Regions from separate parts of the Homo sapiens genome. Here region 2 is linked to region 1. Evidence: fine-mapped expression QTL. A gene starts in region 1. The other region holds a variant in brackets. All regions are shown on one strand. Distances are between the middles of the regions.

Region 1 (15,988 bases):
CTCCCAGCCACTCGCAAGGCTGACGGTACAAGATACTCCAGGGTTGAAGTATCTTGCACTGAGGAGCTCACTCCACCCTGTCTAGCCCCGCACCCCAGACTTTCTCCTAGAGCATCGTCCCAGGCACCTCTGGGTTCTGACCCCAGCTTTGCCTTAGACCCCAAGGACTGTGGGAGCTGGGCCAAGGTCCTTCACAACTCAGTCACCTCACCTACCTCTGTGGTCTGTGGTAATAAGATCACTGATTTGAAGACTGCCTGAATCCAAATCCTGGCTCTACCACTCCCTTGCCCTGCGACCTTCAACAAGTCACTTCATCTCTCTGAGCCTCAGTTTCCTTACCTGTCAAAAGAGGTCCTATCCACTAGGATTGTGGGGACTGAGTATTTCCAAAGCTGTTGGCACAATGTTAGACAAATATTAAGCACCTGATACATGTTACCTACTATAATTATATAATTACTGAGTTTGTTCCCACTTGCTGGGCAGGGTCCAGGATGAAATAATTCCTTTTACTTTCTAAGAGGGTTGAAAGTAGGAAGTAGGTAAGAGTGTTCACTTTAAAAATATGGGGACAGGCCACCGGGCACAGTGGCTCATGCCTGTAATCCCAGCACTTTGGGAGGACGAGGCAGGCGGATCACTTGAGGTCAGGAGTTTGAGACCAGCCTGGCCAACATGGCGAAACCCTGTCTCTACTAAAAATACAAAAATTAGCCGGGCGTGGTGGCACACTCTTGTAGTCCCAGCTACTCGGGAGGCTGAGGCAGGGGAATCATTTGAACTGGGGAGGCAGAAGTTCAGTATATATATACACTGAAAAACACACAGTTCATACACAACAATCAGTTACAACACCATTCATGACTATGAGCCAAACACTGGCCTACAGCCCTCTCTCATTAAAATCCTCTTAAGTACCCTGAGATGGAACATTACTATTCCCATTTTAGAGATGACGAAACTGAGGCCCAGAGAGGTAAAGTTCCTGCATTCAAACCTAGACAGCCATGCTCTGTCCTTCACCCTACACCTCTTCAGAAATTTTCAGCTCTTCAGATGAGTGCCAGCATGGTTCCTTTAAGAAACTGTCTGGTGGCCGTGACCACAAGGGCATGGCCCAGGACTGCAGCCAGATGAGGTGTTGCCACTCACCGTAGACCCGCTGCCACCAAATCACCAGAGCTGCGAATCCAATGAAGAAGAAGACACAACCCATCACTGTCTTCCACTCATTGGAGCGACGGTTCATCTCCGCAAAGGTCTCATTGAACTGGAGCCGGTACACTGGAGGCAGTTGGGTGTGGGGAAGGGGCCTCAGGTGCGTCCACTCTAAGTGATCCCGGCTTCCCCCTCCCTGCAGCAGATGCTGTTCATTCAGCAAATTCTTACTGAGCACGTACTATATGCACAGCATGACCAGGAACAGGTGACAGCAGTGAATGAGCCAGATGAAAATCCCTGCCCTTGTGGAGTTTAGAGGGGGAGACAATGGCAAATGCTTCAGGCAAACAGTTGGCTGGCCAGGGAAGGTGTCTCAGAGGAGGTGACATTGGAGCTGAGGTTTGAAAAATCAATGGGAGAAAGTTGGTGAAAACTGGAAGGAAGTGCAAAAACCCTGAAGCAGGAAGTGGGTAGGGAAAGTGTGAAGTGAGGACCACTGTAGCTGGAGTGAAATGAGCAAAAGAGAGAGAATTTAGCAAATGAGAGGCTGGCTCTCTCAAATGAGAGGCAGAGCCGGTTCACACAGGACCTTGTTAGAATCCATGGAGAAGAGTTTGGATTTCATTCTAACAGAATTAGGGAGGGGGCCAGGCTTGGTGGCTCATGCCTGTAATCCTAGAATTTTGGGAGACCAAGACGGGTGGATTGCTTCAGTCCAAGAGTTCAAGACCATCCTAGGCAATAAAGCGAGACCCTGTCTCTAGAAAAAATTTAAAAATTAGCCAGGTAAGTCCGGGCGCAGTGGCTCACGCCTGTAATCCCAGCACTTTGGGAGGCCGAGGTGGTGGATCACGAGGTCAGGAGATCGAGACCATCCTGGCTAACACAGTGAAACCCCGTCTCTACTAAAAATACAAAAATTAGCCAGGAGTGGTGGCGGGCACCTGTAGTCCCAGCTACTCGAGAGGCTGAGGCAGGAGAATGGCGTGAACCCGGGAGGCGGAGGTTGCAGTGAGCCGAGATCATGCCACTGCACTCCAGCCTAGGCGACAGAGCGAGACTCTGTCTCAAAAAAAAAAAAAAAAAAAAAAAAAATTACCCTACGTGTGTAATCCTTTCTCAGTACATTAAATAAATATGAAAATAAATATCTAAAGGAAAATCAAAGCTGGCAGCAGAATTCCTTGGGAAAAGGGAACTGTCTTAGGTTTTGGGAAGATACTTGGGTGGGCGGTTCAGGCTGAGACAATGAAATCAACCAGTGGAGGCCACTCAGTGTGGCTGTGGTAGAGCCATGCATAGACACAGGCCATGCACTCCAGTGCTGCCACGCCTGCCTGCCCTGGAAGAGGTCTGACAAGACTCAAGGCATTTGGCCTGGCATGATGGCTCATGCCTGTAATCCCAGTGCTTTGGGAGGCCGAGGCAGGAGAATTGCTTGAGCCCAGGAGTTCAAGACCAGCCTGAGCAACCATAGTGAGACTGCTCTGTCTCTACAGAAATATAAATAAATAAATAAATAGCCGGGCATGGTAGCTCACCCCTGTAATCCCAGCACTTTGGGAGGCTGAGGTGGGTGGATCATGAGATCAGGAGTTCGAGACCAGTCTGGCCAACATGGTGAAACCCTGTCTCTACAAAAAAAATACAAAAAAAAAAATAGCCAGGTGTGGTGGCGCCCGCCTGTAGTCCCAGCTACTCAGGAGGCCAAAGTGGGAGGATCGCTTGAGCCCAGGAGGCAGAGATTTCAGTGAGCCGAGATGGGGCCACTGCACTCCAGCCTGGGTGACAGAGACCCTGTCTCAAAGAAAAGGAAAAAAAAAAAGTTGTTTGAGCTGTGAGGTTACACTGAAACTCCCCAAGCATCCCACCAAACCTTCATTGTAGCTAATGTGGTGTAGCAGCTAAGGGTGAAACCCCTGGTGCCTGTCTATGTGGTTTCAAATCTTGCCTCCACCACTCTCTAGCTGTGCAACCACTGTAAGTGACTGCACGCCACTGAGCCTCAGTCTCTCAAATGTGAGCTAACGAGAGCAACCTAACGCCACAGCGGTGCCTGCTACATGTAAGCGTGCAGGACATATTAGGGATGGTGCTCATTATCATCTTGCTTGGGGAATGTCCATCATTTCTTTCTCTCTCTCTCTTTTTTTTTTTTTTTTTCAGACAGGGTCTCACTTTGTTACCCAGGCTGGAGTGCAATGCCGTAGCACAATCACAGCTCACTCTAGCCTCAGCTCCCCTGGGCTCAAGTGATCCTCCTGCCTCAGCCTCCCAAATAGCTGGGACGACAGGCATGTGCCACCATGCTCAGATAAAGAGTGTCAATTTCTCTTTTTTTTTTAAATTTTATTATTATTATACTTTAAGTTTTAGGGTACATGTGGTTTGTTACATATGTATACATGTGCCATGTTGGTGTGCTACACCCATTAACTCATCATTTAGAATTAGGTATATCTCCTAATGCTATTCCTCCCCTCTCCCCCCAAGAGTGTCAATTTCTGAAATGGATGAAGAAAAAACCAAGATGTGTGTGTGTGTGTGTGTGTGTGTGTGTGTGTGTGTGTGTAGAAAGAGAGAGAGAGAGAAGGGGTAAAGGTGCTGAGAGAGGGCTGGAAATGCAAGCTCACAGGCAGGAACGGAGCCTGGCTGGCTCACAGCTGCATTCCCAGTGCATGGTATTGTAGTAGGTGCCAAATAAGATGTTGACTGAATGAATGAATGTGAGAAGCATGAACCTTTCCCCACTAGGAATCCCTTGAAATCTTGGAGGTCAGGCTGAGTGTTCCCATTCATGGAATGAAAATAAGGTGCTCCAAATTTCAAAGGGTCAGCTCAGGGATGCTCTGGTGGACATGACAAGGGACCACACATCCCTCCAGCCTCCCAGGGTCAGAGGGCTCCTCCCCAACCGCCTCACCTGCCTCTCTCTGTCCCATCTCCCCCACATCACTCAATTCCAGGGCCCTCCACAGTCTCCTGCTCTGACACCCTTCCCCATGCAGTTCCCACTCCCTGGCAGTGCCCTCCTCTTCACCCTTAAAGGCCAGCTGGAATGTGCCCTCCTCTGGGAGGTCCACCAAGATTTCATCTCACAGTCCTTGAACACACCTCACCCTAGCCACATGTTCTGTATTACAATTATTGGAGTCTGTATTGGTTTTCCCCACGGGACCGGGGGCACCATGGGGGCAGGAACTATCCAGGTGATTCACCTCATGTCCCCAGCATTGCCTAGCATCAGGCTATGCACAAACAGGTGAGTGAATAAAGAAACGAACAAAGGCATGAACTTCACCCCTCAGGTGTTTGGAGGTTTCTGGCTGTCTTGGGGGCCTCTCTCTGCCCTCTGATCCCTGACAGGCCATTCTTTCCAAAGTCAGCCCCCAACCCACTCTCTCCAGCCAGCCCCACCCTGACACTTACAGGCCACCTTTTCGGCGTGGGTCAGCTGGGTCCAGCTTCCCTTCTCCTTCTCCTTCAGGGCCTGCTCCTCAGCGTTGAGTTCTGTGCAGAAGGGCTCTTCTGGCATGGGGTAGTAGCGCTGGGCATAGCAGTTGGTGTAGGGGGACATCTTCCCCCCACCACGGGCTGCAGACACAATGGAGGGAGCTGAGTCCAGGCTGCCCTTGGGACACCCTATCTCTAACTATATTAATAAAGAAGGTGGCCGGGCTTGGTGGCTCATGCCTGTAATCCTAGCATTTTGGGAGGCTGAGGCGGGTGGATCACGAGGTCAGGAGTTCGAGACCAGCCTGGCCAAGACAGTAAAACCTCTCCTCTACTAAAAATACAAAAATTAGCCGGGCGCAGTGGTGGGCACCTATAATCCCAGCTACTCGGGAGGCTGAGTCAGGAGAATTGTTTGAACCCAGGAGGCGGAGGTTGCAGTGAGCCGACATTGCGCCACTGAACACTCTAGCCTGAGCGACAGAGCAAGACTCTATCTCAAAAAAAAAAAAAAAGGAGGTTTATAATAGCTTGGGGTACTAGTAAGGGCTCAATAAATGTTATCTTTGTTATTCTCCATGGGTCAGCAAGGCCCTTCTGCTATCTGGCTGAAGTCTCTCCTACTTTAGGTCTCTTTCTTCTTACTAGCATTGAAACTAGGGTCTGGAAAGGAGGAATCAGGGTCCAAGGTTCTGTCAGCATCCTCCACCTCAGAACAAAAGGTCTAGGGGCCTGAGGCTTGGGGGCTGGCTCCTAAGGAAGCTTGGAATGGAGATGACCACTGTCTGCTCACCCCGCGCACTCCATTTCCTGGAGAAACTTGACCTTGGACCAAGGAGTGGGATCATGGGAACATGGGAAGTGTGGTAGGAACAGGCCCAGGGTGGCATGGAAGGGCAAAGGGGGCAGCCTGCAGAGGGGACCCCTGCCCCTATCTCTGGAGTTAGGCAGGGAGGAAGGAGTCCAGGTCTCACTGGTGCCTTCTGAGCTGTGCATCCCTCGTCTTCCACCTCCACCTTTCCTCAGCACCAAGCTCCAGGCAGCTCTGGGGAGCATCTGGGGGCGTGAAGGTATAGATGAGTTCTGCCCCCACATCACCCTCTGCCCCCAAACCGCAGGGCCAGATGGAAAAATCCTTTTCCACTGGTATGGTAGTGGTAGGGGTGTCCCAGTGTTTCAAGGTCACCCTCATGCCCTTGACCCTTCTAATTTTGTCTGATATCCCCAGCGGGGGGCCAATGGGGGTCCTAGACCTTTGAAGCCCCTTTTTGGGACCTCAATTCACCATCTGAGAAGTGGGAGGAGGCCTAAGTCTTGGGCCAGGGTCTGAAGAGTTTGAGGCTGAGGGCTTGGGTTCTGGTGCCAGCCCCAGCTCAGTCTGGCCAGATTGGAGAACCCCGCTCACTTGTTTGCTCCCCAGAGGAAGCTGGGTGGGGTCCAGGTGGAGAGGGAGCAGTTCTTGAGTCTCTCTTCCCTGCAGGGGCCAGAGGCCCCTGCACCGGCAGAACAGACAGACGGTCTGGCCCCCACCCCTTCCCCCCTAATTGGCTGCCTACGTGCACACAGGCCTGCTCTGCTGGATCTGGTTGGGGTGGGGACTGGGCTTAGCCAGTCTGGCTGAGCCCAGTCTCCCACCCCCAGGGAAGACTCAGGGTTTGGCATCCATGGTGGTGGGGAGGGGCTTTAGAGGATGGGGACTTAACTGGGTCAGAGGGAGGGAGACACACATCTGGGGAAAAGAAGGGGAGTCCCACATCTAGGGAGAGAGAGGGGCACCCAACAAATAGAGTGAGGGAGGGGGCACACTACAGGTGATAAGTGGGAGGGGGCGGCCCACACTTCTGGAAAAGAGGGGCTCCGGCCAGTGATTATGATTAGTGGGTGGGAGAGCTCCACATATCAAGAGAGGGAGGATGTAATCTATATTTGGGGAAAGAGATGGCACACATATGCAGACTCCCCAGGAGTCTTCAACTCTAACCTACAAGAAGCCCCCCAACCCTCTAAGACAGGGACCACTGGGGCGTGACCCAGCGGCGAAGGCAGGAGACCGAGCCGCGCCCCTGACCCGCGCGGGCTTGGGTGGCGGGGTCCTCCCCCAACTCACTCACCTCGCGGGCTCGGCAGTGGGAGCGCGACCTGGGTCTGCCCAGCGAGCAACTGAGAACCCGCTGCGGAGGGACCTGAGTGCGGGCGCCCGCCCCCGGCCCGCCCCACAGCCTTTCTCGGGGCCGCCCCAGCGTGGGAACGTCCTGCTTCGGCAGGGCGTGGGAGCGCACAGCCTGCGTCCCTGGGGGCACCCCGGCCCACAGATTGGGGGGAGGCACTGCAGAGCGCCTCCTGCATCAGTGTCCCTACCGGGGTCCTGCCTCTGGAGACCCTCTGCAGACAGTAGTCCCAAGAACAGGGTCTCCCTGCCTCCTCCACACCTCCCCTCCTTGCTGTTTCTCCCACCTGGGATGTTCTCTTCAGGCCTTTGCAGACGCAAACCTTCCAGCCAGGCCCAATGCCTCCTACTCCAGAAGCATCTTTTAGGCCAGCAGTGGCTCACGCCTGTAATCCTAGCACTTTGGGAGGCCGAGGCGGGAGGATCACCTGAGGTCAGGAGTTTGAGACCAGCCTGCCCAGCATGGCGAAACACCTTCTCTATTAAAAATAGAAAAATTGGGCGGGCGCGGTGGCTCATGCCTGTAATCTCAGCGCTTTGGGAGGCCAAGGCAGGCAAATCACGAGGTCAGGAGTTTGAGACAGCTTAGCCAACATGGTGAAACCCCATCTTTACTAAGAATACAAAAATTAGCTGGGCGTGGTGGCACGCACCTGTAATCCCAGCTACTCAGGAGGCTGAGGCAGGAGAATCGCTTGAACCCGGGAGGCGGAGGTTGCGGTGAGTCGAGATCCGGCTACTGCACTCTAGCCTGGGCAGCAGAGCTAGACTCCATCTCAAAAAAAAAAAAAAAAAAAAAAAAAGTTAGCAGGGCGTGGTGGCGCGCACCTATAGTCCCAGCTTCACAGAGGGCTGAGGCAGGAGAATCACTTGAACCTGGGAAGCGGCTGTTGCAGTGAGCCGAGATCGGGCCACTGCACTCCAGCCTGGGCAACAGAACAAGACTCTGTCTCAGAAAAAAAGAAAAAGAAAAAGAAAAAAAAAATTCCCAGCACTTTGGGAGGCCAAGGGGGGCAGATCATGAGGTCAGGAGATGGAGACCATCCTGGCTAACACAGCGAAACCCCGTCTCTACTAAAAATGCAAACAAAATTAGCCAGGCATGGTGGCAGGCGCCTGTGGTCCCAGCTACTCAGGAGGCTGAGGCAGGAGAATGGCTTGAACCCGCAAGGCAGAGGTTGCGGTGAGCCAAGATCATGCCACTGCACTCGAGCCTAGTGACAGAGCGAGACTCCATCTCAAAAAAAAAAAAAAAAAAAATAGACAAGGCTCAGGCACATTTATTCAAGAATTACTTATAAAACTGGGCGTGGTGGCTCATGCCTGCAATCCCAGCACTCTGGGAGGCGGAGGCGAGCAGATCACCTAACGTCAAGAGTTTGAGACCACCCTGGCCAACGTGGTGAAATCCCGTCTCTACTAAAAATACAAAAATTAGCCGAGTGTGGCAGGGGACACCTATAATTCCAGCTACTCGGGAGGCTGAGGCTAGATAATCGCTTGAACCTGGGAGGCAGACGTTGCAGTGAGCCAAGATCGCACCACTGCACTCCAGCCTGGGTGGTAGAGTGAGACTCCTCAAAAAAAAAAAAAAAAAAAAAAAAACTTAAAAAAAACTTATAAAGACCTGTTTCAGCTGGCATTTATTGCATACTTGTTTACCAGGATAAATGTTGGGGGCTATAGAGCCAAAAAAAACCAGACATAGTTCCTGCCCCCACAGGGCTTACAATTCTGTTCTAGGCAGAGGAAAAGGCCTGTGCAAAGACCCAGAGGCAGGAAAACACAGCATGTTCAAAAAACAGAAGAGACAGGCCAGGTGCAGTGGCTCACGCTGTAATCCCAGCACTTTGGGAGGTCAAGGCAGGTGGATCACAAGATCAGGAGATCGAGACCAGCCTGGCTAACACGGTGAAACCCCATCTCTACCAAAAATACAAAAAATTAGCCAGGCGTGGTGGCATGCACCTGTAGTCCCAGCTACTTGGGAGGCTGAGGCAGGAGAATCGCTTGAACCCGGGAGGTGGAGGTTGCAGTGAGCCAAGATTGCACCATTGCACTCCAGCCTGGGCGACAGAACGAGACTCCGTCTCAAAAAAAAAAAAAAAAACAACTGAACAGAAGAGACAGCCAGGTGCGGTGGCTCATGCCTATAATCCCAGCACTTTGGGAGGCCGAGGCGAATGGATCACCTGAGGTCGGGAGTTTGAGACCAGCCTGGCCAACATGGTGAAACCCCGTCTCTACTAAAAATAAAAAAATTGGCCAGGTGTGGTGGTGCACATCTGTAATCCCAGCTACTCGGGAGGCTGAGGCAGGAGAATCGCTTGAATCTGGGAGGCGGAGGTTGCAGTGAGCCAAGATCCCACCGTTGCACTCCAGCCTGGGCAACAAGAGCGAAACTCCATCTCAAAGCAACAACAAAAACAATAACAAAAGAAGAGAGGTCATCTTGGCCAGAGTGTCATGGTTAAAGGGGAGGCTGGATGGAGGGAGAGGTGGGCTGGACCACCGAGAAGGACCTGTAGGCGGTAGTGAGGAGCTTGGATTTTATTTAAAGAAGGTGATTAAGCTGGCATGGTGGCACACCCCTGTAGTCCCAGGTGCTCAGGAGGCTGAGGCAGGAGGTGGAGGTTGCAGTAAACTGAGATTGCACCACTGCACTCCAACCTGGGCAACAGAATGAGACCCTGTCTCAATAAATAAATAAATAAATAAAATAAAATGAAGGTGGGAGGCAACCAAAGTTAAGAAGAGGAGTGATGTGTTCAAATGAAGCAGAGCACAAGTTCAGTAAATGTGTCCCGGGACTGTTAGTATACGGATGGTGGATGAATGGGAGAGGGCTGGGGGTCCCCTCGGTGGCCTGGAGACCAGAGCTTTCCAGGTCTCCTGGCTCTAGGTCCATGGGGTATGCCCAGCCCCCATGCCTTCCATCAGGGTTCCTATACCCTAGTGAGTCCACAGGGGCCTGCTAAAGACAGTTTCTAAAGGCTGGCCAGGCATGGTGGCTCATGCCTGTAATCTCAGCACTTTGGGGGGCCAAGGTGGGCAGATCACTGGAGGTCAGAAGTTCGAGATTAGCCTGGCCAACATGAAGAAAACCTGTCTCTACTAAAAATACAAAAATTAGCCAAGTGTCGTGGCACATACCTGTAGTACCAGCTACTAGGGAGGCTGAGGCGGAGGTTGCAGTGACCCGAGATCGCACCACTGCACTCCAGCCTGGGCGACACAGCGAGACTCTGTCTCAATAAATAAATAAATAAATAAATAAATAAAGGGAGGGGGCTTAGTCCTGGGGGCAGATGAGCCTAGAAGGCGAGGGGCTCAAGGGAAGGTGTTAGAGGGACCCTAGAGTGCACATCACCTCCATTCTAGACGCTGCCAGAGACAAAACTTTGAGAAGGCAGCTTGGGAGTCTTCCCGAGTTCCAAGAGTCCAGCTCCCAGAACTGACCATGTTGGGCCCAGCGCCCTCTGCTGGTCACTCTGGGAGCTGCTCCTCCCCTTCCCCAACCAAGGTAATTCCAAACGTGAGAGACCCCCAAAAGGATCACCTTGGCCAGGCACCGTGGTTCATGCCTGTACTCCCAGAACTTTGGGAGACCAAGGCGGGTGGATCATCTGACGTCAGGAGCTCGAGACCAGCCTGGCCAACATGGCGAAACCCCGTCTCTAGTAAAAAGACAAAAATTAGCTGGGCGTGGTGGGGGGGGCACTTGTAATCTCAGCTACTTGGGAGGCTGAGGCAGGAGAATCGCTTGAACCCGCGAGGCGGAGGTTGCAGTGAGCCGAAGTCGCACCACTGCACTGCAGCCTGGGCCACAGAGTGAGACTCCCTTTCCAAAAAAAAAAAAAAAAAAAAAGGACCACCCCTTACCTCGGTCACTGAGCAGGATGTTCTACAGAACAGCCCTATGGACAGAGGACAGGGGAAGACACTCCTTCTTTAAGAACCTGGAGGAGAGCATGCCTTGTCTTTTTTTTTTTTTTTTTTTAAGCTTTGTAGAGACAGGGTCTTGTTATGTTGCCCAGGTTAGTCTTGAACTCCTGAGCTCAAGGGATCCTCCTGCCTTGGTCTCCCAAAGAGCTGGGATTATAGGCGTGAACCACTGCGCCAGGCGGAAGGTCATGAGTCTTGCCAGACCTTTTTCAGGGTGGCTGGGAGGGCGGTGGCTGCACTGGAGTGAGTGGCCTGTGTCTATGCATGGCTCTACTACAGCCACTCTGGCCAAGCGGCACCATTTCTGGGCCTCAGTTTCCCCCATCTCCTCAGTTTCACAGGGTCTTCCAAGGGAAGGCATTTGGGAAAGGCGATCCTCTGTTCTTCCCTGCCCTCTTCCGCCCCCGCCTCTGTGGGAACATCAGGCTCCAGAAGTTGAGTGATGCTGTGATAAGGAACATCTGTGGGGGAAGCCCAGCCCCGGACTGAGGGCCATGGGGTGGAGGCCGGCCCTGAGTAGCTCACGGTGAATATAGCCTGCAGGACAACTGCGGAGCCTCCTTTCAAGGTCCTGAACCTGGGAAGAGACGGACTGTCCCTTAAGGCAGGCCACTCGGGGTCCCAGAGCCGAGGAATAAGGGTCTTCTCCTGGAACCGCGGGGGGTCCAAGGGTGGAAGGGACTCCGGACACGGCATTCAGGCCACTTGTCGTGACAGGCCCGACATGCTGAGAGCTCTGGGATAGGCTGAGACCTGCCAGCAGGAGGGATGGCAGCTCACGCTCACTTGATCAGCTCCAGGGAGCCCCCAGATTCTGCCCAGATGCAAAGACCTGAGCCATGGCCTCAGCATCCCCCCACCAGCCAGGCTCTAGGTATCACACAGGACCCACCTCCGGCCTGCCAGCCCAGAGGGGATACTGTGGAAGAGCTAGGCCTCACGCAGGACCCTAAGGTGAAAATAGGAAGAGGAGCTGGACAAAGCGTCACAGACCCAGACCCCCAGCCCTTCAGGAGGCCCGGGAGCCCCTTGAACCCAGGGAGGAGGTCTAGTACAGGAGGAGCGGGGAGAGGCGAGAGTGGGCAGAGCTAACCACAAGGAGCGGGGCCAGGCGACAGCAAGGGAACCGGGCGCCGAGGGGGCAGAGCCAGCGAGCCGATGGGCGAGGTCAGTGAGCCGAGGGCCCTGGCCAGGAGCGGAGAGCAAGGCCCACCCAGCTCACCTGTGGGAGCGGAGGCTCTGCGGAGCTATGGGAATCACCGAACGCTGAGGGTGTCTCGGCAGCAGCTCAGGCTCGGAGGACGTCGCGGGAAGACCCGCAGCTCTGGTGGACCGTCCAGCAAGCGCTTCTAAAACCGTGGACAGACACGCCAGGCCAGAACCAACACTGAGGGCTGGGCACGGTGGCTCGCCCCTGTAATCCTAGCACTTTGGGAAGCTGAGGTGGGAGGATTGCTTGAGATCAGTAGTTCAAGACCAGCCTGGGCAAAATGGTGAGACCTTGTCTCTATATAAAAAAAAAAAAAAAAAAAAATCAAAAAATTAGCAGGATGTGGTGGCGCACACCTGCAGTCCCAACTAAGGAGGCTGAGGTGGGAGGAGTGCTTGAACCTGGGAGGTCGAGGCTGCAGTGAGCTGTGATTGCACCACTACATTCCAGCCTGGGTGACAGAGCAAGATCCTGTCTCAAAAAAACAAACTGACGTTGAGCTGGGACTGCCATAGGAGTGGATGGCCACTAATGGCAGGTTTCCTGGCCTGCCGCAGAACCCATAGCATGATCGGGGTAGATGAATGCCCTTGGCTAGATTTCACCGGGACAGGACAGGACAGGTGGCCTAGAGATGGAAACTTCCTGGGGCAGGTCAGATCTCTTCATACCATTGCCGTCTCCTCCTCCCTACCAGGGCAGACACACTAGAGGAGTGGGGCTGAGGGAGGCGTCCAACCTGGCAAAGGGGCTGAGGTGGTGAGATCTGGGAGTGCAGGTGTCACATCAGCCCTAGGGGTAGGCACTAGTGCCTTCACATCCTGGAGGCCAGGGCCTCTGTCTTCTCTGAGACACAATTGGCTCCTGCACATGGGCATGGGTATTTGGCCCCCAGATGTGGGGACAGCCTATGTGGGGACAGCCTCATGGTATCCTTGAGCCTTTCTTGGCACCGCTGGCTTCCCAATAAACTCCTTAGCCTGACGTTCAAGGTCCCCACTACCAAACCTTCCAAATACAGCTTCTTCATCAGCCTCTCTTGCTCTCCCACCATGCCCCAGCCACACTGGGCTTCAGTTCCTAGAACACACCCACCTTGCCCATGACAGGGCCTTTGTAATTGCTCTTCCCTCTGCTGAAATGCTCTTCTCTCAAGGGCAAGTCTTATTCCCACTCACCTGTTCCATCTGAGAGAGCTCTACCGGAGCAATACACCCGGCCTCTCACCCACAGACCAAAGCTATGCTTTACAAACTAGTTTATCAGGAATTGTGGCAAATTGTATTTTCAAAGAAGATAGCCTATCAATATCTCCAATTCGACATGCTCATTGTACAATTATGACCTTGACACTTGAGTGTGGGATCTATGTCCCCCTTCCTTCAGCCTGGATGTACCTTTGTGACAGCATTAAACAGCAGAATATGGTGAAAGTTGCTATGTGACTTCTAGATCATAAAAATGCCATGTGGGCCCGGGTGGGGTGGCTCACGCCTGTAATCCCAGCACTTTGGGAGGCTGAGGTGGGTGGATTGTGAGGTCAGGAGTTCAAGACCAGCCTGGCCAAAATGGTGAAACCCCATCTCTGCTAAAAATACAAAAAAATAGGCTCAACGCCGTGGCTCATGCCTGTAATCCCAGCACTTTGGGAGGCCGAGGCAGGTGGATAACCTGAGATCAGGAGTTCGAGACCAGGCTGACCAACATGATGAAACCCTGTCTCTGCTAAAAATACAAAAATTAGCCGGGCGTGGTGGTGGGCGCCTGTAACCCCAACTACTCAGGAACCTGAGGCAGGAGAATCGCTTGAACCCGGGAGGCGGAGGTTGCAGTGAGCTGAGATCGCACCACTGCACTGCAGCCTGGGTAACAAGCGAGACTCTGTCTCAAAAAAAAAAAAAAAAAAAAAAAAAAATTACCCAGGCATGGTGACAGGCGCCTGTAATCCCAGCTACTCGGGAGGCTGAGGCAGAGAATTACTTGAACCCGGGAGGCAGAGGTTGCAGTGAGCTGAGATTGTGCCACTGCACTCCAGCCTGGGCAACAGAACACAACTCCATCTCAAAAAAAGAAGAAGAAAAAAGCCACGTGGTCTGTTAGGACATTCTCCCTGGGAACCCAGCCATCATGCTATGAGGGAGCCAAGCCAGCCCAGGTGGAGAGACCATATGGAGAAGTCATGTGTAGATGTGCTGGCTCAAGGCCCTGCTGAGGTGCCAGCCTACAGCCAGCATCCATTTCCAGACATGTACAACTCCAGATGATTCCAGCCCCAGCCATCAAGGACCTCATAGCCATTGAGTCTTTCCAGCTGAGGCCCCAGACTTCATGGGGCAGAGACAAGTCATCCCTGCTGTGCCCTCTCTGACCTCCTGGCCCACAGAAACCATGAGCATCAGTTATTTTGCACACTAAACACCAGGTGGTTTGTAGGTGGTTTGTCATGCAGGAACAGTGAATGGAACAGTAAGGAAGTGTTATTTTGATTTCAATATACCTGATTCCTCATCTGCTCTCTGTTGTGTCAGAACTTGGGCAAAGAAGAAGTTGTTATGTATTGACATCCAAACCCTAACCACTGTCCTTCAAATTGCAGCTTAAATGTCATCTCAGAGAGCCCTTCCCTAAGACCCCTATGCAGTTTAGATTTCTTTTCTTTTTTTTTTTTTAAACAGGGTCTCATATGGTCACCCAGACTGGAGTGCTATGGTGGGATCTTGACTCACTGCAGCCTCAGCCTCCTGGATTCAAGCAATCTTCCTGCCTCAGGCCCTCCAAGTAGCTGGGACTACAGGTGTGTGCCACCATCCCTGGCAAAAATTTTTGTATTTCTTGTAGAGATGAAGTTTTGCCATGTTGCCCAGGCTGGTCTTGAACTCCTGAACTCAAGCTACCTGCCTGCCTCGGCCTCCCAAAGTGCTAGGCCTCCAGGCGTGAGTCACTGCACCTGGCTAGATTTATTTTCCTCATAGTATTTTTCATTATCCAAAATTATGCACAGGCTTGCCTGGCCTGCATCTTCTGCACACCAAGCCTGTTCACTCAGTCCCTCCACCTCTACATGGGGATGAAGTAGGATCTGGCTGTTACACTGATACTCACTACTTAATTTTTATTGGTGCAATTGCTTTGTTTTTGTTTTGTTTTGTTTTTTTGAGACAGAGTTTCACTGTTTTGCCCAGGCTGGAGTAAAGTGGTGTGATCTCGGTTCACTGCAACCTCTGCCTCCTGGGTTCAAGTGATTCTCCTGCCTCAGCCTCCCAAGTATTTGGGATTACAGGCACATGCCACCACATCTGCCTAATTTTTTTTTTTTTTTCTTTTTTGTATTTTTAGTAGAGACAGTGTTTCTCCATGTTGGCCAGGCTGGTCTTGAACTTCTGACCTCAGGTGATCCACCCGCCTCAGCCTCCAAAAGTGCTAGGATTACAGGCATGAGCCACCGCACTCGGCCTATTGGTGCAATTGTAAATCATACTTTTGAAAAATTTCAAGCCAAGCGTGGTAGTGCGTGCCTGTAACTACTCAGGAGGCTGAGGTGGGAGGATTGCTTGAACCCAGGAGTTTGAGCCCAGCCTGGATAATATAGCAAGACCCTGTCTCTAAAAAATAAAAAAAAAAATCAATTTCCAATTGTTCATTGATATTATATAGAAATGCGGCTGGACACAGTGGATCACTCCTATAATTCCAGCACTTTGGGAGGCTGAGGTAGGCAGTTCACTTGAGGTCAGGAGTTCGAGACCAGCCTGGCCAACATGGCAAAACCCCATCTTTACTAAAGATACAAAAATTAACTGGGCGTGGTGGTGCATGACTATAGTCCCAGCTACTTGTGAGGCTGAGACTTGAGAATCACTTGAACCTGGGAGGCAGAGGTTGCAGTGAGCCAAGATGGCGCCACTGCACTTTAGCCTGGACGACAAAGAAGACTCCATCTCAAAAAGAAAAAAAGAAATGCAATTGATTTTTGTATATTGACCTTATATTTTACAACCCTGCTAAATTCATTTATTAGTTGTATTAGTTTGCTAGGACTGCTGTAAGAA
Region 2 (15,988 bases), 120 kb before region 1:
GCCTTTCTCAAAGGAGTTTTGCCCTGAAAAAGCCCTCCAGTTCCATTCTTCCCCAGTAACTTATTCTCCAAATTGGCCTTCTCCTCTGTGAAAAGGGAAGATCATCATTGTCTGATCAGCAAGGAAGCAAAACAAATCACTATCACGCATTTAAAATGCAAACTAAAGCTCCCTACCAGTACACTTCCAACTCATGTGGCAAGTACAAGCAAAGTTCTAGCAATCAAAAGAAAAAGTACACATTACACATCCGAGATAGACTATAAGAACAATCACTAAAAACTGGCAACATTGAACAATGTATTATAAAAAAGGAAAAGTACAGATTCTGCATTGTGAATAACTCCTTATCTTTGTTTGGTACACATTTAGGGTCATACAAATATGAACTGGCTTTATCTACTCCCTAAATATATCATGTTCCTCTTAAAGAAAACTGTAACCAGCCGGGAGCGATGGCTCACACCTGTAATCCCAGCACTTTGGGAGGCCGAGGCGGGTGGGTCATGAGGTCAGGAGATCGAGACTGTCTTGGCCAACATGGTGAAACCCCGTCTCTACTAAAATACAAAAAATTAGCCAGGCGTGGTGGCACATGCCTTTAATCCCAGCTACTTGAGAAGCTGAGGCAGGGGAATCGCTTGAACCTGGAAGGTGGAATTTGCAGTAAGCTGAGACCGCACCACTGCACTACAGCCTGGCGACAGAGCAAGACTCCATCTCAAAAAAAAAAAAAAAAAAAAAACGAAAGAAAACTGTAACCATCAAAAACTGTAGGGCTTACAAGAGATACTGTATAGTCTTACAGAGTTTCCTCCTCAGTGGGGTGGTGGGAGGAATAAGGGGTGTGTGAGGGTAGAGCAGAGCTAGGTTCTCTCAAGAAATTTTATCTTAGATTCTACTGTGCCCAGAAGTCAGTACAAAGCAGTGAAGGGTCTGTTCTACCAACAGCCTACTGATAGTTTCAGGAATGCAGTGAGACACAGCAATAACTACCCTGTGCATGTACATTCTGATTGCAACTGTGTAGAAAGATGTGACTATTTATTTGGGAAAGAAATTGGAAAGTAATATATTAAAACTGAGGTAGTTTTGTTAGCCAAAAGAACTCTGGCAAAAACAAAAAGAAAAAAAAATAAAAATGTTTTAAAACTAAGGTAGTTTTGGAAAAATAGTGGGGTCATTTTTTTTCTTCCAAATTGTATTTAACAGTATTCTTAGGCTAATCTTTTCTTTTCTTTTTTATTTTAAAGAAAAGCTTAGAAAAAGAAATCCTCAGACAGCCCAGCCATTTCCTTACAGTTCCAGTGAAGCAAGGGCATGGGGAAGATCCCCGCAGGACAGCTGGCCCTTGTATTTATTTACCCTTCCTCCCACACCACTTCCAACAGACGACTCCTCTCAGGATCCCCACTAGATGCCATTAAAGTCCTTTTCCAAAAAATGGCACCTGTCAACACATTTGGACAGTGCACTATACGGATAAGTACAGCTGCAATGGACTCACTTCTGTTCCCCACCACATATTCATAGTGATTTCTCCCGATAAGGAGGATGGAGACATGAGAGAAAGAATCAAAGGGGCCTCAACAACTAGTCTCAGATATTATTTCAAAGTAATGTAAAAATGTAACCACATTCTTACTTACCATTGGCCAAGCAATACTGTTTCTGGGAATGGGTTCTTAGTAGCATAATCCTTCCATTTAAAAATGAATTGAGGGCCAGGCGCAGTGGCTCACGCCTGTAATCCCAGCACTTTGGGAGGCTGAGGTGGGTGGATCACCTGAGGTCAGGGGTTCAAGACTAGCCTGGCCAACATGGCAAAACACTGTCTCTACTAAAAATACAAAAATTAGTTAGGCATGCTGGTGGGCGCCTGTAATCCCAGCTACTTGGGCGGCTGAGGCAGAACCGCTTGAACAAGAGTGGCGGAGGTTACAGTGAGCTGAGATTGTACCACTGCACTCCAGCCTGGGCAACAGAGCGAGACTACAGCCTCAAAAAAAAAAAAAAAAAAAATGAATTGAGGGAGGGGTGGCAGGAGGGAGGTGAGGGTAATTATAAAAGATCTTGACTGTGATGGTAGACACATAAACCAACACAGGTGATAAAACCACAGAGAACTTAATACACATACAAGTAAAACTGGAGAAATCTGAGTAAAACTGGTAGATTGTATGAATGTCAATATCCTAGCTGTGATATAATCTATCCCTAATGATAGTAGACAAAGTTTTTATGTGGCTGCCATCACTACAGACATATTTGAGCATGGAGTTTTGTTGAACACTGGTTCATCTGAACTTTCCCATAGGTCCCTAAAGCTTAAATCTGCCATTCTGAACTACAAAACAACATATGCTTTGTACTTACAATCCATTCCCCAAATACTGGGCATTTCAATTATTCCCATAATATCATGGATGACAGAATGTCTTGGTGCAGAAAGAAGTTGATATTTTAGTTCTTTTCTTGCAACCCCTTCTATTATTGAAAGGTCTTCAGCACAAAGCAAGCCACTAATCCTTAAAATAGCCAGAGAAAGCAGGCACTTACCAAACCATGAATCTATGTTTTGAGTATCTCCTTCATCATCCAAGGATGAAAAATTGATGAAATCCGAGGGGGCATCATAGGAATAAGAGCTTTTAACTTGTGACATTGTCTCCCACTTAACGCAGAAGAGCAGGTTTTTCCCAGTATTTGTACCACTTTTCTCAGCAGGTCACCTTCTGAGGAAAGAAATGGTTGCACATAAATCTAAGTAAATTCCCATCATTACTTTGGTTTTACTACCACGTTTGTAATTTTGCAAACCACCTAGAATTTACTGAAAATAGCCTTACTTTGTCCAATCAACCTAAACATTAGTTTTTCAGGTAACTTAAAGATACTCCTTGAGGTAGATATGTTTGGAATTAGAAAGAAGTGGGCCAGACACAGTGGCTCACGTCTGTAATCCCAGCATTTTGGGAGGAGGGAGGACCACATGAGACCAGGAGTCCAAGTCCAGCCTACAAAACATAGACAGACCCTGTCTCTAAATAAATTAAAATTATCTCTAAGTATAACAGTTGACCCTGTCTCTAAAAAGATAAAAATTATCTGTAAGTAGTTGACCCTATCTCTAAAAAAATAAAAATTATCTTTAAGTAATCAGCAAATATAAAGAAAAACCAAAAAGAAAAAATTGAAATTAAAAATAAATTTTAGGCCAGGAGCAGTGGCTCACGCCTGTAATCCCAGCACTTCGAGAGGCTGAGGCGGGTGGATCACCTGAGGTCAGGAGTTCAAGATCAGCCCGACCAACATGGCAAAACCTCTTCTGTACTTAAAAAATACAAAAAATTAGCTGGGCATGGTGGCAGGCGCCTGTAATTCTAGCTACTCGGGAGGGTGAGGCAGGAGAATCGCTTGAACCTGGGAGGTGAAAGTTGCAGTGAGTCGAGATCGCGCCATTGCATTCCAGCCTGGGCAAGAAGAGCAAAACTCTGTCTCAAAAAAAATAATAATAAATAAAAATAAAATAAATAAATAAATTTTCTAAATGTTTTTTAAAAGAGGCAAAGTTTGATAAGTATCTACACTGTGCTAGGTGTTTTACATTCACCATGTCATTATTTTCCCTCAATTTACCATTTTCTCATTTCTAGCCTCCTCTAGCCCAATTTATTCTCTCTCTGCCCTGAATAACCCAATTTCTAAAATACACCACTAATTTTTATGCCTACCAACCAAAATCTTATCCATCATTCAAAGTCCAGGTCAAATCTCTATGAACTCTTTCCCAATTTCCACCTATCATACAAAATTGTTGCCTCTCCAAAGCCAATTGTGCTTTGTTTATATCTCCACTGTAACACTTATCATCCAATTTTATATTAACTATGTAAATGTCTCTCCCAGTAGACTCGAAGTTCCTAAAAACAAAGATAGATTTTACTCACTTGTGTATACCTCATCCATCCATCCATCCATCCAACCATCAAGGTGCTTAACACAGTGCATTATACATAGTAAGAGTTCAACACAGTTTTGTCAAATATAAGTTGTCTTTTCTTAGAAATATTCTCAAAAAATACTATTTCTGAGTATAAAGACGACAACTTTGAAATACACGTAAGAGTCACAACATGCAGCATAGGAACAGAAGCAAGGATAAGGGAACAAGTTAAATAGGCCCCTCCCTACTCCTGCGTACGAAGTTTTGCACTCTATCTTGTGGAAACCTGTGAAGGTTTAAAGTCAGCTCCTACTCAAGCCTAATCTAGTTAATAAAATAGCTGAAAGTAATCTGATAAATAGCCTAAAGGCCACACTCAGTGGCCAATAATTTGCCAATGAAACCCAATGAGCCATTTGTCTTTTTTTTTTTTTTGAGACGGAGTCTCACTCTGTCCCCCAGGCTGGAGTGCAGTGGCATGATCCCAGCTCACCACAACCTCTGCCTTCCGGGTTCAAGCAATTCTCCTGCCTCAGTCTCTAGTAGCTGGAATTACAGGCGCCCACAGCCACACCTTGCTAATTTTTTGTTTTCAGTAGAGACGGGATTTCACCATGTTGGCCAGGCTGGTCTCAAACTCCTGACCTCAAGTGATCCACCCACCTCGGCCTCCCAAGTGTGAGCCACCGCGCCCGGCCAGCCATTTGTTTTTATCCAGGGAACGACATGTACTTAAAAGTATCTGTATCTTAGAAGGGAGGTAGATGCCAGTAATCACTTGAATAAATGTTTATTTAAATTAATACCTTTCTAGTGTGGCGCAGTGGCTCATGCCTGTAATCCCAGCACTTTGAGAGGCCAGGGCGGATGGATCACCTGAGGTCAGGAGTTTGAGACCAGCCTGGCCAACATGGTGAAACCCCATCTCTACTAAAAATACAAAAAAGCGGCCGGGCACGGTGGCTCACGCCTGTAATCCCAGCACTTTGGGAGGCCAAGGCGGGTGGATCACGAGGTCAGGAGATCAAAACCATCATGGCTAAAATGGTGAAACCCTGTCTCTACTAAAAATACAAAAAATTAGCCAGGCGCAGTGGTGGGCACCTGTAATCCCAGCTACTCAGGAGGCTGAGGCATAAGAATCCCTTGAACGCAGGCAGCGGAGGTTGCAGTGAGCCAAGATCACGCCACTCTACTCCAGCCTGGGTGACAAGAGCGAGACTCCGGCTCAAAAATAAATAAATAAATAAACCTATAATGCTACACTATTCCAGATGTCTTCTCCCTCATATATATACAAACTATTATTTTTTTAAATGAATCATTGACAGTTTGAATCTGCTTCACATATTATGAATATTCTTGTATGTCAATAAATATAGACATATCAATTAATGGCTGTATCTGTTCCATAATTACTTATCCTTGATTTTCAGCCTTTTTCCAATATTTTCACTTTAAAGATACTGCTAAAGCATCATCCTTGTAGCTAAATTTCTGTACACATCCATAATTCTTCCCTTAAGATAAATCTTAAGAGGTGGAACTGCTGGGTCAAAAGCTCTTGACACATACTGTGAAAATGTCCCTCAGAAGAAAAAAACACCCACTTACATTACCAGGAGTGTGCCAGTTCCCCAAACTCTCCCCAACTCTGGGCACTGCAGCACTCATTTTCTCTAAACTATACCACATAAGCTATCCACTGAGATGAATCATGAGATTAGTTACTCCCAACCTACATAGCCGTTCAGTGGTTTGGCCAGCATTTCACAGCTTCTCTCAGTGGACTAGGGCAATTCAAAATGGACTAGGGGCTGAGAGTGGTGGCTCATGCCTGTAATCCCAGCACTTTGGGAGGACGCGGCGGGAGGATCACTTGAGGTCAGGAATTCGAGAACAGCCTGGCCAACATGGTGAAACTCCATCTCTACTGAAAATACAAAAATTAGCCTGGGGTGGTGGCTGCACCTGTAGTTCCAGCTACTCGGTGAGAATCACTTCAACCCGGGAGGCTGCAGTGAGCCAAGACCGCACCACTGCACTCCAGCCTGGGAGACAGAGCGAGACTCTGTCTCAAAAAATAAAATAAATAAAAATAATGTACTTCTGGTCCTTATAGTGTCTCAGAAACATCTGTTATTGTTGTTGTTTTTGTTTTGTTTTGTTTGAGATGGTGTCTTGCTCTGTCGCCCAGGCTGGAGTGCAGTGGCATGATCTTGGTTCACTGCAACCTCCACCTCCTGGGTTCAAGCGATTCTCTTCCCTCAGCCTCCCAAGTAGCTGGGGTTACAAGCGTGCGCCACCACGCCTGGCTAATTTTTCTATTTTTAGTAGAGATGGGGTTTCACCATGTTGGCCAGGCTGGTCTTGAACTCCTGACCTCAGGTGATCTGCCTGCCTCGGCCACCCAAAGTGCTGGGATTACAGGCATGAGCAACCGCACCCGGCCAGAAACATCTGTTATAACAAATATTTCATTTATACAGTGACATCAATCTAGACCCCAGAGAACATCATCTTCCCATGGTCTCTCCTATGCTCACTGCAGCCAGAATTCCACAAGTATCTTTATAACAATGCTCTAATTGAGGTACTTAGTGTAGAAACATGATATTTTAGAATTGGGAGGAAACTTTGATTAACACCTAACCTTTGCAGTCTATAAGATATTAACTTAAAGCAAAAAGGGGTTCTCCAAGATCACACAACAAAAATCCTAAGGATCATGGTAAAAACAGTTACCAGAGGTGTTCATTACATGCCAGGTGCCATGATATACTAAATATGTATTCTTTCTGATATGCAAAACAATCCTGTAAAGCAGCAATTATTCCCAACCTAGAAGCTGAAGATCAGAAAGATTAAATGACTTGCCCAGTATCACACAGTTACGTAAAAACAGAGCCAGATCTGGACCTGAGGCTCGTGACTTCAGCACAATGTTCTTTCTACATCCTTCTGCCCTCTTACCTTGTGAATTAAAGAAGGGTGTTCATGAAGTTAAGCTATTTGCATAGAAAAGAATACTGTATTTATTTCCAAGTAAATCCATTCTCCATAGTCTTCTGTCTGGAATAGGGGTTCTTTGGTATCCCCAGTCTAAATTTTCCTCTCTCCTCCATTTCTACTTTCATTATTAAGCTTAACTCAATAAGCTTTTTGTCAGTGGTTCACAATAGTGTGTACTTGCTAGGGGCCATAAGCTGTGTGCCCTTGAATGTTTCTCAGTAACATTCAAGGATGACACTCTATATCTTCACACAAAAAGTAGATCTAAGCGGCCAGGCTCAGTGGCTCGCACCTGTAACCTCAGCACTTTGGGAGGCCGAGACAGGTGGATCACAGGGTGAGGAGATTGAGACCATCCTGGCTAACATGGTGAAACCCCGTCTCTACTAAAAATACAAAAAGAATTAGCCAGGCATGGTGGCGGTCACCTATAGTCCTAGCTACTCAGGAGGCTAAGGCAGGAGAATGGTGTGAACCCGGGAGGCAGAGCTTGCAGTGAGCCGAGATCACGCCACCGCATCCAGCCTGGGCAACAGTGCGAGACTCCGTCTCAAAAAAAAAGAAAAAAAAGTAGATGTAGTCCTGAACACAAAGGAACTTAACATCTACATAGACGCTAAGGTCCTATCATACACAATAAATAAGACAGTTTGTTTAAATTATACAGTATGAACTCTAAGTATAGAGAATTAGAAATTAACATGGCTGAAGTCAAGGTACGATTAAATATTTTTCATTGACCATGACCAAAACAGTAGCAAGTACATTAAAATGGAAGTTACCTCCTGATAGCCACTTTCCAAGCTTGGGGTAGCCATGGGACAGTTCTGGCCAATGAGAACTAAGTAAGAATCTGCTGAGGGATTCCTAGGAAAAAATTTTCTTTCCTGAAAACAGCTATAGCCCTTATTCCTGCCCTTTCCCTTTATCCTTCTTCTTGCCTTGAAGGCAAGCTGGAGCTATGGCAGTCATCTGGTATACATGAGTAGATGGCCAAGAGAACAATAAACATAGGGCTTAACATCAATGAGCTAATGACTATTAAAGATCAAATATCAGCTACTATATACCTCTAGACTTCTGGTGTTTTTTACAATTTTCCATGACCTGCTAAAAAGACTTCTTATACTAAAAAAAAATAGGCCAGGCACGGTAGCTCACACCTGTAATCCCAACACTTTGGAAGGCCAAGGCAGGCGGATCACCTGAGGTCAGGAGTTCGAGACCAGCCTCACCAACATGGTGAAACCCTGTCTCTAATAAAAATATAAAAATTAGCCAGGTGTGGTGGCAGGTGCCTGTAATCCCAGCTACTCGGGAGGCTGAGGCAGGAGAATCACTTGAACCCAGGAGGCGAAGGTTGCAGTGAGCTGAGATTGCGCCATTGCACTCCAGCCTGGGTGACAAGAGTGAGACTTCATCTCAGAAAATAATAATAATTATTGTATAAACCATTATAGCCACATTTTCTGTCACCTGTAGTCAAAAGCAATTCCAACTAACAGAAGTCCAGAATGCCCTCTCTGGCATTTACCACATGTATATGACAATAGGCAAGTCACTAATTCTCTGCCTACCTTCTTACCATAATCAAATAAGAAGCTACTTCAAGTGCTATGAAATACACTATTGTAAGGTATTATCACTGCTGATACCTTTCCTCTCCTTGACCACATTTCTATTCAAAGGATTTTTAGTGAAAGATTCCATGGTACTGACAGTGGTTAAAAACCCCTTGCTGCAAGGAGGAAATTTTCCTTTTCTTGTGAACAAATATGCTAGAAGACATGGGAAAATCTTGGATTCCCATGATCTTAATGCCTAACTCAGGTCACTGGGAA[G/C]GCTTCCCAGGCATGAATGTAATGAAGACGACTAAAGCTGGGGGAAGGAAGAGGCAGGAATGTAACATGCAGCAACCCCACTTAGCCTCAAAACCATGATTCCACCAAAGCATGATGCTGAAAACTACCTGGAAAGTGTTCAAATTTAACCCTTCACATCCTTTTTTTCTTTCTTTTTCATCTCTGTTTTTTAAAGAATCTAGCCTGTTGCTCAGGCTAGACTCGAACTCCTGGGCCCAAAGGATCCTCCCTCCTCAACCCCTCCTAAGTAGCTGGGCATGGTGGTGTGTGCCTGTAGTCCCAGCTAATCAGGAGGCTGAGGTGGGAGGATCATTTGAGTCCAGGAGTTTGAGGCCACAGTGACCCACGATTGCACCACTGCACTCTAACGTGGGCAACAGAGTGAGACTCTGTCTCTTAAAAGACAACAACAACAACAACAACAAAATAGTTAAGCAGTATTTATTTCCCTAGATCTATGTTTGCAGCCCAAAAGAAACTGAGCTTTCTCAAATTTTTATTAAATATTCATGACAAGCAATGATTGTCTAATCTCTTGATTTAAGGAAATAATCCTTCCCATTTACGTGGCCTATAAATTGACTATTAACTTACCCAAATGTTACATATTCTCTTTCTAATATTTCTATATAGAACTACCAACCTGGCCAACATGGTGAAACCCCATCTTTCTACTAAAAATACAAAAATTAGCTGAGTTTGGTGGCACATGCCTGTAATCCCAGCTACTCGGGAGGCTGAGGCAGGAGAATCGCTTGAATGCAGGAGGCAGAGGTTGCAGTGAGCCGAGATCATGCCACTGCACTCCAGTGTGAGACTCCGTCTCATAAATAAATAAATAAATAAATAAATAAATAAATAAATAAATAGCCGGGCACGGTGGCTCACACCTGTAATCCCAGCACTTTGGGAGGCCAAGGCGGGCGGATCGCCTGAGGTCAGGAGTTCGAGACCAGCCTCAAAATGGAGAAACCCTGTCTCTACTAAAAATATAAAATTAGCCAGGTGTGGTGGTGCATGCCTGTAATCCCAGCTACTTGGGAGACTGAGGCAGGAGAATTGCTTGAACCTGGGGGGTGGAGGTTGCAGTGAGCCAAGATCGCACCATCGCACTCCAGCCGGGGCAACAAGAGCGAAACTCCGTCTCAAAAAAAAAAAAGAAATCGAGACCATCCTGGCCAACATGGTGAAACCCTGTCTCTACTAAAAACACAAAATTAGCTGGGCATCGTGGCATGCGCCTGTAGTCCCAGCTACTCGGGAGGCAGAGGCAGGAGAATAGCTTGAACCCGGGAGGAGGAGGTTCCAGTGAGCCAAGATCGTGCCACTGCACTCCAGCCTGGCAACAGAGTAAGACTCCATCTCAAAAATATAATAATAATTAATTTAAAAAATTAAAAATAAACAAATAATAAGATTTCTATATAGAACTAAAAATGATTCCTGGGGCATTGACTTAATAAAAGGGTATATAAATTTGAAAAAGTTAAAAATAAAAACAGCTATTAACTTTTTTCTTTTTTTTTGAGACAGAGTTTCACTCTTGTCGCCCAGGCTGGAATGCAGTGGCACAATCTTGGCTCACTGCAACCTCTGGCTCACGGGTTCATGTGATTCTCCTGCCTCAGCCTCCTGAGTAGCTGGGATTACAGGCACCTGCCACCATGCCCAACTAATTTTTTGTATTTTTAGTAGACGGGGTTTCACCATGTTGGCCAGGCTGGTCTTGAACTCCTGACCTCAAGTGATCCACCCGCCTCAGCCTCCCAAACTGCTGGGATTACTAGCGTAAGCCACCGTGCCCGGCCAACAGCTATTACTTAATGAGCACTTATGACATGCCAGACACTGTTGACAGTGTCTTACATGTATTAACTCACTAAATCCTCACAATAATCCTATAAAGTAGGTACTGTTATTATCTTCATTCTATACTGAGGGACTTGAGGCACAGAGAGATTTACTACTTATTCACAGTCATGCAGCTAAGAAGCAGTAAAGCCAGGATTCCAAATGGAATAGACACCGAAGGTGGTGTTCTTATCCACTGCCTATTTATTTAAAAATAGACATTTAAGCTGGGCGCGGTGGCTCACGCCTGTAATCCCAGCACTTTGGGAGGCCGAGGCGGGTGGATCATGAGGTCAAGAGATTGAGACCATCCTGGCTAACACAGTGAAACCCCGTCTCTACTAAAAATACAAAAAAATTAGCCAGGCGTGGTGGTGGATGCCTGTAGTCCCAGCTACTCGGGAGGCTGAGGCAGGAGAATGGCGTGAACCCAGGAGGCGGAGGTTGCAGTGAGCCGAGATCGCGCCACTGCACTCCAGCCTGGGCAACAAAGCAAGACTCTGTCTCAAAAAAAAAAAAAAAAATTCACATTTAAATAGATAAATAACAAATGTCATGGAGCAAGAGATAATAACTTCCAAATACTGTCTACTGTAGGCCAGGCACCTTACCAGACACTTCACATAAATCATCTCGTTTAAACTGCATTAACAATATAGACAATAGATAGATGTCTTTATAAATAAATGCTACCATCACCATTTTATAAACAAGGAAACAAGCTCAGAGAAGTTACACTATTCCAAGATCACCAAACTAATACATAGCAGTGTTGAGTTTTAAAAGAACAAGTCTGCAGGATTCCAAAATCTGGGGTCTCTCTAATGCACAAGTTTTCCTATAAACATTGCTTCAAAAAGGAGGTAGGTAATCAAATCATAAGATCCTGTTCAACAAAGACAAATCCTGCCCTTTATGAAAACTAAGCATCCCTGATATGCTCATAAAGAAAACTTTAGCAAATTACAAATCCTGTTATAAATATATTTGGAAAGCTCTGATCTGAATCTTCCCATAAATTTTTTAAAAAATCCATTGATTCCTCTTTTTTTAAGTATACTTTTCCATATGAAGTTTTTCCTCTATATAAGATGGTGGTTAGTGAAAACCTCAGTGATATTCTAGAGTAAAGAGACTATGAAGAGGGTTCAAGCAGCAGAAGAAAGGCTGTCCTCTGAGGTCTAAGACTACATTTGATTAGTGGGGAACAAACGGCGAGGGGTGCAAACCTAAGTACACTTAATCTTTAGGTGAAATTTTAAAAACAAAATATTATTTTCCTAACATGACCTGTTCTTTAAAAAAGCTTCTTTTAAGCTATATTTTGGTCTAGAATGGCCAACTCAGGAGACCATCCCCTCTCCCTGGAAAAAGAGAATAAATAAATACATATCCATTGAGAAGTCTGACTCTCTTCAATTAAGGCTGATAGGACAAGTACATCAAGAAAACGAAAAGCTAACTACTGGGTAATTTCGGTTTCACGACACTACCTCCCCCAGAAATAATAAATATGAGGATGTGAAATCTTCCAAAATTAAAGTCCACAGGGCCTAGTGGGAAATGGAACAGGCCAGAGCCAAAGGCAGCTGTTTAAATGAGAGAGCCCCAGGCATGGTGGGAACTGGATGCCTTCCTGCGTCCCTTAATCAAGATTGAATTTCTGTCAACAGGTCTCACCAAAAAAAAAAAAAAAAAAAAGGCACATGCGTCAACCACATTCCCCCAAACAAATCAAGTTGCCAAGCAAGAGAATCAGCTTCACATTTCAAAATTATCTGAATCTACCACAGCTTCAGATTCTTGCAAAACTAGAAATATTCTGCATGGAAAAATAGCTATTAATGACCAATATTCCTACAAAGACCCAAGGAAAAAGCCTATCCTGTATGCTATGAACCAATTAGGTTCCTCTAAAAACTGCCTATTCAATGCCATCCATCGTGTCTTATAGCCCATTTTTGTTTCCAAAAAGCGAAGACTAAAACGATAGATAGATAGATAGATAGACAGACAGACAGACAGACAGACAGAGATAGAGATATAAAATCTCGGCCGGGCACAGTGACTTATGCCTGTAATCCCAGTACTTTGGGAGGCCAAGGCAGGCGGATCACGAAGTCAGGAGTTCGAGATCAGCCAGGCCAACATGGTGAAACCCGTCTCTACTAAAAATACAAAAATTAGCGGGCGTGGTGGGTACGTGCCTTTAATCCCAGCTACTCGGGAGGCTGAGGCAGGAAAATAGCTTGAACCCAGGAGGTGGAGGCTGCAGTGAGCCGAGATTGCACCGCTGCACTCCAGCCTGGGACAGAGCGAGACTCCTTCTCAAACAACAACAACAAAAAAAAATCTCTTCCCTCCAAGAACGCACAATTGAATGGGGGAATGCAAACAATTACAATATAGGGCTATCCTTGCTGCAAGAGGGCATTAACAGAGAGCGCTCTGGAAGTGCAGAGAAGGAGAACAGCATAAAAGAGGATCAGAGATGGTTTCCTGATGTAAAAAATACTTAAAAGATACAGACAGACCTGCGGAGTTCTACAAGCTAAGAATGAACGTTGACTTTTTCTAGGGTAAGAGATAAATGGAAGGGGAAGACAAATACAAATTAGGAAGATTGCAGACAAAGCAATGTAACCTGTTCCCACATTCATCTGAAATTAACCTCCCATTGCCTCCCATCTTTCTTCACTCTCAAACCAAAAATAACTAGTCTTGACAAGCTCTATAAATCAAAAGGTGCAGGTTCAGACCGGGTTGGGGAAAGCTGCAAGAGGGTGCATTCTAAGCAGGGTGAAATAGGGGACTACCAGCTCCTGAGCAAAACAAAGACTTTGGTGTGACAGATGCTCTCAAACACCTTGCTATCCAGTCAGTGAGATATGACTTGCCTATTTCTATTAAAGAGAAAGTCATGAGTTAAACTGGTAATATAATAGAATAAACAGAGTAAGACAAGACTTCATTAGAAGTATAGTTAGTTAAGATGGTCCCATCCCAGGCAGTGCCATTTCTCCAGGGACATCCTCTCCTACTTTCACAAGGGATAAGAGATCCTGTTACATTACCACAAGTAAAATAGAGTGGAGTTACTTTCATCTTACCCAGAGAGAAAACACCTACATTTTTTTCTTGTATATAAGGGATTAGCAGCAGTCAGTAAATGGCAACATAATCCAGCATGCAATTTTAACTGTTAATCAAAGTCACAAACTAAGTCTGAAGGAAGTTTAATGGACTTTGTGTTTCCACATTTATGTTTGCTAACTTCTATGTTGAAATTGGATCTGTTTACAGAAACAGATCTATGAAGCTTCCAAAATTGGGTCAATTTAAAATCCAATGACAATCCCTCACTGTCCAACACTCAGAAGTCAGCACAGGACACATGGACACTTGTTCTAATTCATCACTGTCCAGAAACTTCAAGCAAATATATTTCCTATCATTTCTCTCCCAAACTTGTATGTTTCATATTGCCCTTTTTTAAGGATTACAAACTCAGTTTTGCTATAATTTATCCATAGAACTCAACAAACCATAATCCACCTATGACTAATAGGACCTAGATGGAAATCAATGATGCTGTTTACTACTAGGACAGATAATGACAGAGAGCTTTGTAAAATACTAAAAGGAAATCTTAGTAGAAACCCAAAGTAATCTGATATTCCAATAGTATGAAGCTGAAAAAGTTTGTAATGGTTGACAGTGTGGCTGCAGATTACAATCCTAGTCAAATAGCAGTCATTTCATTTTATAGAGATTTATTCCCTTCAAAAGGTATCTGGTTTGGGGAATAACACACAAACACTCAAACCCAAGAACCTAATAAAAGTGTTTATTAGATGGCTCATGCCTGTAATCCCAGCACTCTGGGAGGCCAAGGCAGGTGGATCACCTGAGGTCAGGAGTTCAAGACCAGCCTGGCCAATATGGCAAAACCCCATCTCTAATAAAAATACAAAAATTAGCCAGGTGTGGTGGCGTGCCTGTAATCCTAGCTACTCGGGAGGCTGAGGCAGGAGAATCACTTGAACCAGGGAGGCAGAGGTTGCAGTAAGCTGAGATTGTGCCACTGTATTCCAGCCTGGTTGACAGAGTGAGACTCTGTCTCCAAAAAAAAAAAAAAAAAAGTGTTTACCTATGGATGGTGAGAGTGAAGAAGTAACAAGGCTGGAGGAAGATTTTAAACCATGAAGCTTTTTATATTCTTTTGATTTTTGCACCATGCAAATATATTACCTATTTTAAGTTATACATTTATGCCTATGTGAATATATACTGTTTTAGGTAAATCAGCATAATCTTCCTACAAGGCAATTTGGTGTTACATGTCAAAAGTTTTTAAAAATATGTTTTGTTTGTTTGTTTTTTGAGATGGAGTCTCGCTGTTGCCTAGGCTGCAGTAGTGCAATGGCGCGATCTCGGCTCACTGCAACCTCCACCTCCCAGGTTCAAGTGATTCTTCCACCTCAGCCTCCCGAGTAAGTGGGATTACAGGCACCCGTCATCATGCCTGGCTAATTTGTGTATTTTTAGTAGAGACAGGGTTTCACCATGTTAGCCAGGCTGGTCTTGAACTCCTGACCTCAGGTGATCTGCCCGCCTCAGCCTCCTCAGAGTGCTGGGATTACAGGCGTGAGCCACCGCGCCCGGCCAAAAATACGCATTCTTTTAGACCAGCAATTTCACTGGTAAAAGTAATATAAAGAACCAAATAATGGAATACCATATAGCCATTAAAATTATGTTGTAGAAAAATTTGGCCAGGTACAGTGGCATGCACCTGTAGTTTCAGCAACTCGAGAGGCTAAGGCAGGAAGATCACTTGAGCCCAGGAGATGGAGGCTGCAGTGAGCTGTGATCACGCCACTGAAGTGCACACTCCAGCCTGGGTGACAGAGCAAGACCCTGTCTCAAAAAAAACAAAAAAGAAAAGAGAAGAAAATTTATTAATGACACGGGAAAATATTCATAGCCTGATTATTAAGTTAAAAAAATTAGAGGCCGGGCGTGGTGGCTCAAGCCTCAATCCCAGCACTTTGGGAGGCCGAGGTGGGCAGATCATGAGGTCAGGAGTTTGAGACCAGCCTGGCCAATATGGTGAAACCGTCTCTACTAAAAACACAAAAATAGCCGGGTGTGGTTGCGGGTGCCTGTAATCCCAGCTACTCGGGAGGCTGAGGCAGGAGAATTGCTTGAACCTGGGAGGCGGAGGTTGCATTGAGCCAGAGATCGCGCCATTGCACTCCAACCCGGGCGACAGAGTGAGACTCCGACTCAAAAAAAAAAAAAAAAAAAAGTTAAA

Evidence for each region.
Region 2: its variant is fine-mapped to the expression of COX4I2 in tibial nerve (GTEx, PIP above 0.99).

What each region holds. Positions count from the first base shown.
Region 1 is chr20:31,628,703-31,644,690 of GRCh38, reverse strand. It overlaps COX4I2 (cytochrome c oxidase subunit 4I2), which reads right to left and starts at 6,779. Exons shown (of 5, transcript NM_032609.3): 1 at 6,729-6,779; 2 at 5,592-5,673; 3 at 4,594-4,758; 4 at 1,156-1,287. The coding sequence starts at 5,673. RefSeq lists silencers at 6,719-6,858, 14,296-14,496 and enhancers at 9,987-10,487, 10,488-10,988.
Region 2 is chr20:31,744,154-31,760,141 of GRCh38, reverse strand. TPX2 (TPX2 microtubule nucleation factor) reads right to left here. Exons shown (of 18, transcript NM_012112.5): 3 at 2,560-2,735; 4 at 1-85. The coding sequence starts at 2,665. Among named protein-coding and RNA genes, the nearest start is that of TPX2, 13 kb to the right of the region's middle. The variant G/C (reference allele first, on the strand shown) is at 8,800.